Linked DNA regions of Homo sapiens: region 2 is linked to region 1. The links come from fine-mapping of genetic effects on gene expression. A gene starts in region 1. The other region holds a variant in brackets. All regions are shown on one strand. Distances are between the middles of the regions.

Region 1 (4,393 bases):
TTTATTAGGGCAAGAAGCCCATTTTGAGATATCATATTTTCAGAAATCAAAGTTTCTTCCTTACAAAAGTAGACTCAGTGACAAGTTTTTGCTAGAAGCTTACATTGAAATAATCTTATTATGTACATATGTTTTTTTAATATCTCTCAGGAAGTTAGCATTAATTCTAGCTGTGAATTGGCAAAGGGCAAAGCCCCTTTCTACTTTGTGTACAGGATGTACCTAATTAATAGTTACCCCTCTCCACCTTAAAGCTATTCTGTAGATAAAGATCATCAGGGGCATTAACTTCCAATACAGAGGGGAACGATCCAGCAAACTAGGCATCAGACTAATCAAAACCAAAAATACTGTACAATGATGATTGATACATAATACAATGAAAATTGGTATTCATAAGGATGATTTTGGATTAGCCAACTAAGAGGAAATCCTTATCTGGGTAGTTTTAATGCTGAGTAGTATAATGTAGGGTTTTAGAAATGGGCGACCCACATATATGATAAAAGGGTTAGCTGTAAATATATCTGCTAGCTCAGCTAATAAACTTATTAACTGGAAGATGCCATTCTGAGTAACTTGGACGTCCTTGAGTAGTCACATTCCAATTTGCTTTCAGGTATATCACTGATGCACTGAATTGTTTTTCTCTCAGCAGAAATGGATTTGGTCATGTTTGTCTCTTCCTGCAGCTCAACCTCCCAAATAAGATGGCAGCTCAACTGTGCTGTTTGAATCCCTGACCTTGATGGCATTAGCAATAACTCACGAGTCAGTGCTAGTGACATGTGTCAGTGTTACCTTAGCTTATGAAATATGTAGGGGGAGAGGTAAAGTCTTAAAAGAAACAAATGGGTGCACTTTATCGTATGTAAATTGTACCCCCAGTAAAGTCGATTTCAAACAAATTCTGAACCCGCGAATGACTTTAGGGAGAAGGAATACTGGTCTTGACCAAGATGTGTGTGATGATTAGTAAGCTTTGGGCAGCAGCCCCCTAATACTGTAAGGAGGTTGTGTTCATTTATCATCTTCCAAGCATAATCTAGGCTTCTGGCAAATTAGACCCAACCACTTTGTTCTACATTCAGCTGCAGGGGGAGGTGAACCCTCCTAGGGATTCCCAACTCCCTCTGAAACTCCAGCGTTCTGGAGGGACTTATGGTTATATGGAGGGCTTGGGAATGGAAGGCACTGTGGAGCTTATGCCATTGTCCCAAGATCCTCCACCTGGGCCAGTAATGGCTAGCCCCGTAAACAAAGTCCCCTTTTGCTGGAACTGCCACCACTAGCTTCCCCCCCTTCTCCTAGCCTCTGTGTGGCCCTCTCCCGCGGCGGGCCTTCCCCATTGGCCAGCCAAACACAACCGACTGCGGCAGCCAATAGGAGCCGCTCTCCTGAACATTCAGAGGATGGGTGCGCGTGGTGTGATAAGGGGATGTTGGCGCCTGGTACGCGCCCCCCTACATCTGGCAAGTCTGTAACAGAAACAGTTACACCCCCTACACACGCACACGCGTGCCCGCTGGCTCCCTCCTCTCAGCTGTACAGGCCCCGGACAACCCACTGCGTGTCTTGGCAGCGGCCTCCCAGGCTGCCTGGGGCCCGCGAGTGCACCTGCTCACTCATTAAGACAGAGCATCCCTTTATCCCAAGGCGCGGGTCGGGTAGAGGGTGGGGGTAGAGGGGACGGGGTAGCGGGGACCGGGAAGGCGCGGCTCAGCTGCCCGCTGCTCCCGAGGTGAAAGAGGTGCCTCCGCCCCCACCCCATCCCCGCAGAGTTGCGTTGCTCCAGGGAGGCCGAAGTGATCCAGTGATGTCTTAAGGTGCAGCTCTTTGTCCTCCCCAGCTGTGCTCCCTGCCCGCTGACCCCGTGCGCTCGAGCCAGTGGGGGTGGGGAGCCCGAAACCTATAACATAAACGGGGGCAAGGAGAAAGAAGTCTATCCCGGGGTGGCGTGTGCCGCTGTCCCCACCCCGTCTCTTTCCTCCTGAGGCTTCTTCCCTCGGGTCCGTCCCGGGAATGCAGGCAGGGGAGGGTGTGGGCCGAGGCGCGGCGGCGGCTGGAGCAGCGCGGTAGGGTCCTTCGCCAGAGCATCCGGTCCGAGGGCGCACACAGGCAGAAGGCTCGCGGCTCGTCCACTCTCCTCCCTCTCTCCTCCTCTCCCTGGCTTTTGTGTTGGTGCCTCCGAGCTGCAAGGAGGGTGCGCTGGAGGAGGAGGAGGGGGGCCCGGAGTGAGAGGCACCCCCTTCACGCGCGCGCGCGCACACGGTGCCGGCGCACGCACACACGGGCGGACACACACACACGCGCGCACACACACACGCACAGAGCTCGCTCGCCTCGAGCGCACGAACGTGGACGTTCTCTTTGTGTGGAGCCCTCAAGGGGGGTTGGGGCCCCGGTTCGGTCCGGGGGAGATGGCGCAGCCCATCCTGGGCCATGGGAGCCTGCAGCCCGCCTCGGCCGCTGGCCTGGCGTCCCTGGAGCTCGACTCGTCGCTGGACCAGTACGTGCAGATTCGCATCTTCAAAATAATCGTGATTGGGGACTCCAACGTGGGCAAGACCTGCCTGACCTTCCGCTTCTGCGGGGGTACCTTCCCAGACAAGACTGAAGCCACCATCGGCGTGGACTTCAGGGAGAAGACCGTGGAAATCGAGGGCGAGAAGATCAAGGTGATCCAGGGGGTCAGGTCCAGGAAGGGTGGGACCCGGGAGGGGACCTCGCCCGAGGCATAGCTCTAGCGGTTGTCGTCGTCCAGCGTCCAGCGCGTGGCGGTTTCGCCTCTTGCTGAGCCGAGGACCCTCGGCTCCTCCTCACCCCTTTTCACCTCTCTCAGCGGGGCCCCGTCCCCACTTCACTCAGTTTTTTAGGGCGGTTGAGAATGGGGTTGCATTCTTACCCTTAGCCCCTGCCTGACAGGTCCTGCCAGGAAAAGCATGTTGGATTCCCATCCATGACCCCTACCCCGAGCAGCGGCACCTGTGGGCAGAGGGAGGCAGGAGGCATCTGTGGGTCCTAGTCTCTGGGATGGATCCCAAAGCACTTTACACATCCTGATGTCTCTTCTACTGCTTGGGTGCCGATAGGCTGCAAAACCCCACTTTGGCTAAGCCTCAAGGCGTTAGAGGGAAGGAAATGATGGAAATCCATGGAGAATGAAAAAGCTGCTTTATTTTAAATTGCAGTTTATAGTTAAAAAATTAGGGCTGAGTTGAGATGGCGGTGGAGTGGGGTGGTTCTGGCAGAAAGCCATGAGCCCTTTTAAAGAAATTGAGGCAGGGTCCAGCCCTTCGTAATAGACAAAACTTGTTTTTTTGTAACAGCCCCCCTGGAATGATATCTTCTTTACTTGTCTGGGGCATCTAATACATGAACTGCTCCTTATTCATTCTGTTGGTATTGTCTTCAGGTCTTTGTAAAAATGCAGTGACTTAACCGAGGGCCAGGGGAATGTTCAATCCTCCCCCTCCATGAGTTTATGTAATAGGCTAAGTGCAAATATTCTTGTCTGACCATTTGTGCTCACCTTTAATTCAGAAAAGGTAGAAACCTGATATGACAGGAATATGTCAATGTGCAGGGGATGGCGGGAGGGAGGACATAACAAGGGCAACTTCTTGTGTCATGGGGAGCAGAGGGGGGCCTCTATAAAGGCACTGGGATCACTGAAGACAACTCCTCTAGGCTCACAGCTGGCCTTTCCTTGAGCGTATGGTTGGACCTTAGACAGAGTCAGGGGTGACAGTAAGCCTCCTTCTTGCTGGTCAAACTGCCAAAGTGACCACAAGGCCCCTCCTCTGAGTGACGTGGAGAGAAGGGCTGAGTAACTGATGAAACTGATGAAACACTTGAAACTGTGCGAGACTCCTGACTCCTTGATTATTAAAATGAACGTGTTCTAAAAATGGCTTCAGAAACTAGGCCAACTCACTAGATGTCAGGAAGATGGACAGCTCAGTACTGATAAGGGAGAGCCCCAGGGTAGGAAGATAGAACATTATTTTGAAATCGTGATCTTTTTTGCCCCTTGCATTTTGGAAGGGAAGTGCTACATTTCCTTTTAAAGTCAAAGGCGGTATCTGTCTCTGTCCTTTCCTGGGGCTGTTGACATTTGCTTGGTTAAGACTTCCTCTAGTGTGTCTAGCTTCTTTAATGTAAGGCTATAAGATTCTAGAATTTCTAAAACATGACTTTGTAATCCAAAGTAGAAATATCTTTACAGATGGGCTCTTAAACCTCAAAAACCTAATGCTCCCATTTGCTTAAAATCAAGTGCTACAGTGAGCCAAAGAGTTCCCTGGATTTAAAAGGTGGGAAATAAGTCCATCTGAAATTTAGATGGAAAAAATGAAGTGTTTGGGAATCTAAAGAAGGAGGGAGGAAGAAG
Region 2 (4,393 bases), 25 kb before region 1:
TATTGCAATAATCTCTGAAATGGTCTCTCTCTAGTCTTGTCTCACTGAAATCCATCCTCCTCACGGCCAATGGTGATTATTTAAAATTCAATTGCCTAAAATGCAACAGCTCCCCAGTGCAGAAAAAGCTCTTTCACGCAAAGCCCTCCACAATCAGGCCCCTTGCATAACTTCTCAGGTTCATCTCTTGCCACTTCCTAACTTGTACCTAACTGCTCTATCAGTATCGAGCTGCTTCTATTTCCTGGCACCAAACATGCTTTTTTGTGCCCTTGTGCTTTTGCTTATGCTGTTCTTTTTTACTTGGATGCTCTTCAGTCTTCTCTAGTCTGGTGAATGCCTCTTCATTCCATAAGATTGCCCATTCTGTAAGACCTTCTCCTCCAGAAAGCCTTTCCTGATGTCATCACTCTACTGGGCACCCTTCCCAGTATTTCCCACAACATACTGCGCAGATCTCTCTTACTACACACCTATGTGTTATGATTATGTATTTATGTTTCTGCCTAATACAGTTAGCCCCTAGAGGGCAGGGCCTGAATGTTGTTTACACATAGGGGACACTAAATGTCTCATTACCGGCTTATCAACAAACCTATATCCATCTTCTCTGTCTAATGTCCCCTTACAGGAGAAGTGAGTATGTTCCTAACGAAGGACAATCCTTCCACTTATGCTGTGTATCTCATCTACTCTGGGCTTTGCTCCTTCAGAGAATGCGTCCCTATTGGAACACTGCCATTAGTTTACACACACACTCTAGTACCTGCCATTAACAACAATAAAATATAACAAAACCATCCTGGGACTCCACAAATACCTGCTAATAACTGACCTTATTACTCAGACACTCACCTTTTAAAGTCTAACAATATATTCCGTGCTGAGTTATGCCCAAATTATTTTACTATGAGTAATACATATTTGTCAATCTTTTCTCATCGATAATCCCAGAGAGAAGTTAGTGTGGGAAAACAGGAAGGATGAGGAAGGGCAGAAGAGCAAATAGGAGAGATAACAGCTTTTAGGGTCAAGTTGAGTCAGCATGCTAACCTAGGCTTTGATACTAGTGCTTTCCCCAGAAAGACACACTCAGCATTATTAAACCTAAAGCAGCTCGATCCTTCTTTGATGAACTACAATGGCAGGACAGACATAAATGGTAATGGAAACACACATCACCATACTGGCTGGTGGGCAAGTACGTAGAGCCTGACAAAAGAAGCGGTCTACTAGCTCACCTTCTTCCCAGTGAGGACAGCCACACCACCATTCTCAATATGAGGCAGGTCCTGAGCAGAGACATAGAAAGAAGGTGGCTGGAAATATATGCTGTATGGAGAAGAGAGGGAGAATATTATAAGCATGTGGAACTGTTATCAGCTTCCCCCGTAGCTTTAATAAAACTGTTTCCATTATCAGAAACTTTAAGGGACGTTTTCCAAAGTAAGTCTCCAAGTCTATTAAATCATGGTCATGACTTGCTTACATACAGGTATCCAGATCAGTGGTTCTCAACTTGGGGCAATTTTGCTCCCAGGGGATGTTTGCCAGTGTCCAGAGACAATCTGGGTTGTAATAACTTGGGTAGGGATGCTACTCATATCCAGTGGGTAATGGCCAGGGATGCTGCTAAACATCCTATGATGCACTGGACAGCTCCCCACCCCCAGCAAAGCGTTATCCTGCTCCAAATGTCAATAGTGCTGAGGCTGAGGATCCTGCTCTAGATTTAGGTTCATTTCAAAGTAAGAACAAGTGGAGCACCCAAAGAGCTGGTATTCACATATCCACCCAAATGGGTTGTCCAGAATGGTGCTCTTCAATGGAACAACTAATTATAGCTCCTGAGAAGACTCTGCCTCAAGCAGTTATCAACTATGATATATTAATATTAATTAGTTAATATATTAATATTGGCTGAGTGCAGTGGCTCAGGTCTATAACCCCAGTGCTTTGGGAGCCCAAGTTGGGAGGATCACTTGAGGCCAGGAGTTTGAGACCAGATTGGGCAACATAGCAACATCTCGTCTCTAGAAAAAAATTTTTTTAATTAATAAAAGGCACGTGGTGGTACGCACCTGTAGTCCTAGCTACTCGGGAGGCTGAGGTGGGAGGATCACTTGAGCCCAGGAGTTTGAGGCTGCAGTGAGCTATGATTCGGCCACTGCACTCCAGCATGGGTGACAGAGCCAGACCCTGTCTCTCAAAAT[ATG/A]TGTGTGTGTGTGTGTGTGTGTGTGTGTGTGTGTGTGTGTATGCATATGTATACATATAAAGTTAGCCACTAACTTAATTGAAAGTATACATCCTGTTTGAAAATGGAACTAGTGGGGGTGAGGGAAAAGGGTAAGTTTGTAAAATTTGGTCAGGTATCAAAGGGGTCACTAATGAGAAAAAAAATTGGAACCCAAAGAACATGGTACTAGAATTGAGATCTAAGTTGTCCATCAAAAGGAAAAAGCTTCTGGACCTGTATCTCCAAGTCTGTCGTGCAAAAATTCTAACACAGGCTCTTCCTTACAGCCTTCCTACTCTACTCCTGAAATTCTAAATGCCTGCTAGGCTGTCAAAGAGAGTGCCGTTAAAAAGTTTCTTTTCTTCTGCTCTTGTAGGACATGTCTAGGCAAGTATAAAGAAGTGATGGCTGGGGGCAGTGGCTCACGCCTGTAATCCCAGCAATTTGGGAGGCCGAGGAAGGCGGATCATGAGGTCAGGAGATCGAGACCATCTTGGCCAATGTGATAAAACCCCATCTCTACTATAAAATACAAAAAATTAGCCGGGTGTGGTGGTACGTGCTTGTAATCCCAGCTACTTGAGAAGCTGAGGCAGGGGAATTGCTTGAACCCGGGAGGTGGAGGTTGCAGTGAGCTGAGATTGCGCCACTGCACTCCAGCCTGGTGACAGAGCAGCAAGACTCCATCTCAAAAAATAAAAATAAAAAAAGAAGTGACAATACAGGCCAAGTTGATCTTCACCTAAAGAAGCTTAACATAAAGGTTCCAGAAATAGGAGCATTAGTATTTCAGAGGCCAACATTACACCATCAACTGTTGGTAGATCTGGTAACAGAATCCAGGACTCTTGCCCTTTGTAGACTGTTATCTCTAAGCTGTACCAAGTGTGGACCACAGTAGACTCTAGTGGACAGCCAAGCCATCCCTCCTATTACTGTACACAGTCAGTGGCAAAATCCTAACCTATTCTCTGTGCTTAGCTGAAGTTGATAGGCTCATTTTACATAAGCAAACACACCTTCTCTCTTTTCCATTCCACTGTTTGAATCGCAGTGTCTTTGTGACATTTGGGTCATCTGAAAACCACAGTTCTTTTGAAAGAGGAGGTCGCATGTACGGCAGCTCAGGATCTTCAGATACAATCAGTACCTTCAGACATAAAAATCATGACGCTTATCAGAGCCAAGTCATTTAAGGGGCAAATGTCAAAGCATTCACATTAGCTAAATGCTTGCAGACTGTACCCTCTGTGCCAAGCAAAAAAACATGCACCTTACCCTGGCCCCAGGATCCCGAGCCCGGATGGATCTGGCTGCAGCAAAAGCAGCTGTGCCTCCACCAATTAGCAGGAAAGGAACATGACTTGGCGCCTTGTCTTGAGGAACTTCCTCTCCTTCTGAAGCTGAAAGCAACAGAACAGACTGGATGAATCTTCTTGAAGTCTCAGATGATTCTTTGCCACTGTTAAAAAAAAATCACCTTGCACTTGTCTCAATCCTCCACATAAAGCTAGCAAAACATATGACCTACGCTAATCTTAACAATCTTCACAGCATCCTGATGGGAGAGGAAAAGCAAGTATCCCTTTCATTTCATAAGTGAAAAATAGGAGAATGATTTCACCAATGTCATTCATTCATCAGGTCTGAACTGGTACTAGGACATAGCTTAAATATTTAGTTACTTCTAAAACATTTAGAAAGTATACATCAGTAGGCTTTTGCCCTTCCCATCAATTTCCTAGTGATCACCAGGAAAATATCAGGCTCAGTTTCACCTTCCGTTAGCAACAAAGGGAGAAAATCCAGGAGGTCAATTGGGGATTATCATACAATGTTCAAGAATAAGGGGGTGCTTTTGAAAAAAGCAGAACAAATTGCCCACCCAGAGTTGTGGGGCTTATTAAAGGATTAAAACAGTCCTCTCTGAAAATTGAAGTGAATCATGTGAAATGGAAGTGATGGCTAGGGTATGTGCTTTAGGAAAGCAAATATACCTTTAGCAACTCGAAACTGCAAAGACTCAAAAGGGGAACAAAACAGACTAGAAGAATTTCCTCATTTAAAAAACAGCTTTCGGCTGGGCGTGGTGGCTCCCACCTGTAATCCCAGCACTTTGGGAGGCCGAAGCAGGCGGATCACCTGAGGTCAGGGGTT

Direction of the effects. Alleles are on the strand shown, and positions count from the first base shown. SD is a standard deviation of normalised expression in the study named.
For the expression in monocytes after LPS of the gene that starts at base 2,320 in region 1, allele ATG in region 2 goes with a lower level than allele A (moderate effect, 0.55 SD a copy in Fairfax 2014).

The links. PIP is the estimated chance that this variant, and not a neighbour inherited with it, causes the effect. A credible set is the group of variants that fine-mapping cannot tell apart.
Region 2: its variant is the best candidate, but not a certain one, in a credible set for the expression of RAB33A in monocytes after LPS (Fairfax 2014, PIP 0.68).

The regions. Positions count from the first base shown.
Region 1 is chrX:130,169,643-130,174,035 of GRCh38, forward strand. RAB33A (RAB33A, member RAS oncogene family) reads left to right here and starts at 2,320. Exons shown (of 2, transcript NM_004794.3): 1 at 2,320-2,678. The coding sequence starts at 2,421. RefSeq lists enhancers at 1,044-1,093, 1,903-2,857 and silencers at 1,474-1,533, 1,704-1,783.
Region 2 is chrX:130,144,238-130,148,630 of GRCh38, forward strand. It overlaps AIFM1 (apoptosis inducing factor mitochondria associated 1), which reads right to left. Exons shown (of 16, transcript NM_004208.4): 4 at 3,515-3,639; 5 at 3,256-3,386; 6 at 1,242-1,332. It also overlaps a transcript of RAB33A not described here. Among named protein-coding and RNA genes, the nearest start is that of AIFM1, 19 kb to the right of the region's middle. RefSeq lists an enhancer at 2,051-3,250. The variant ATG/A (reference allele first, on the strand shown) is at 2,214.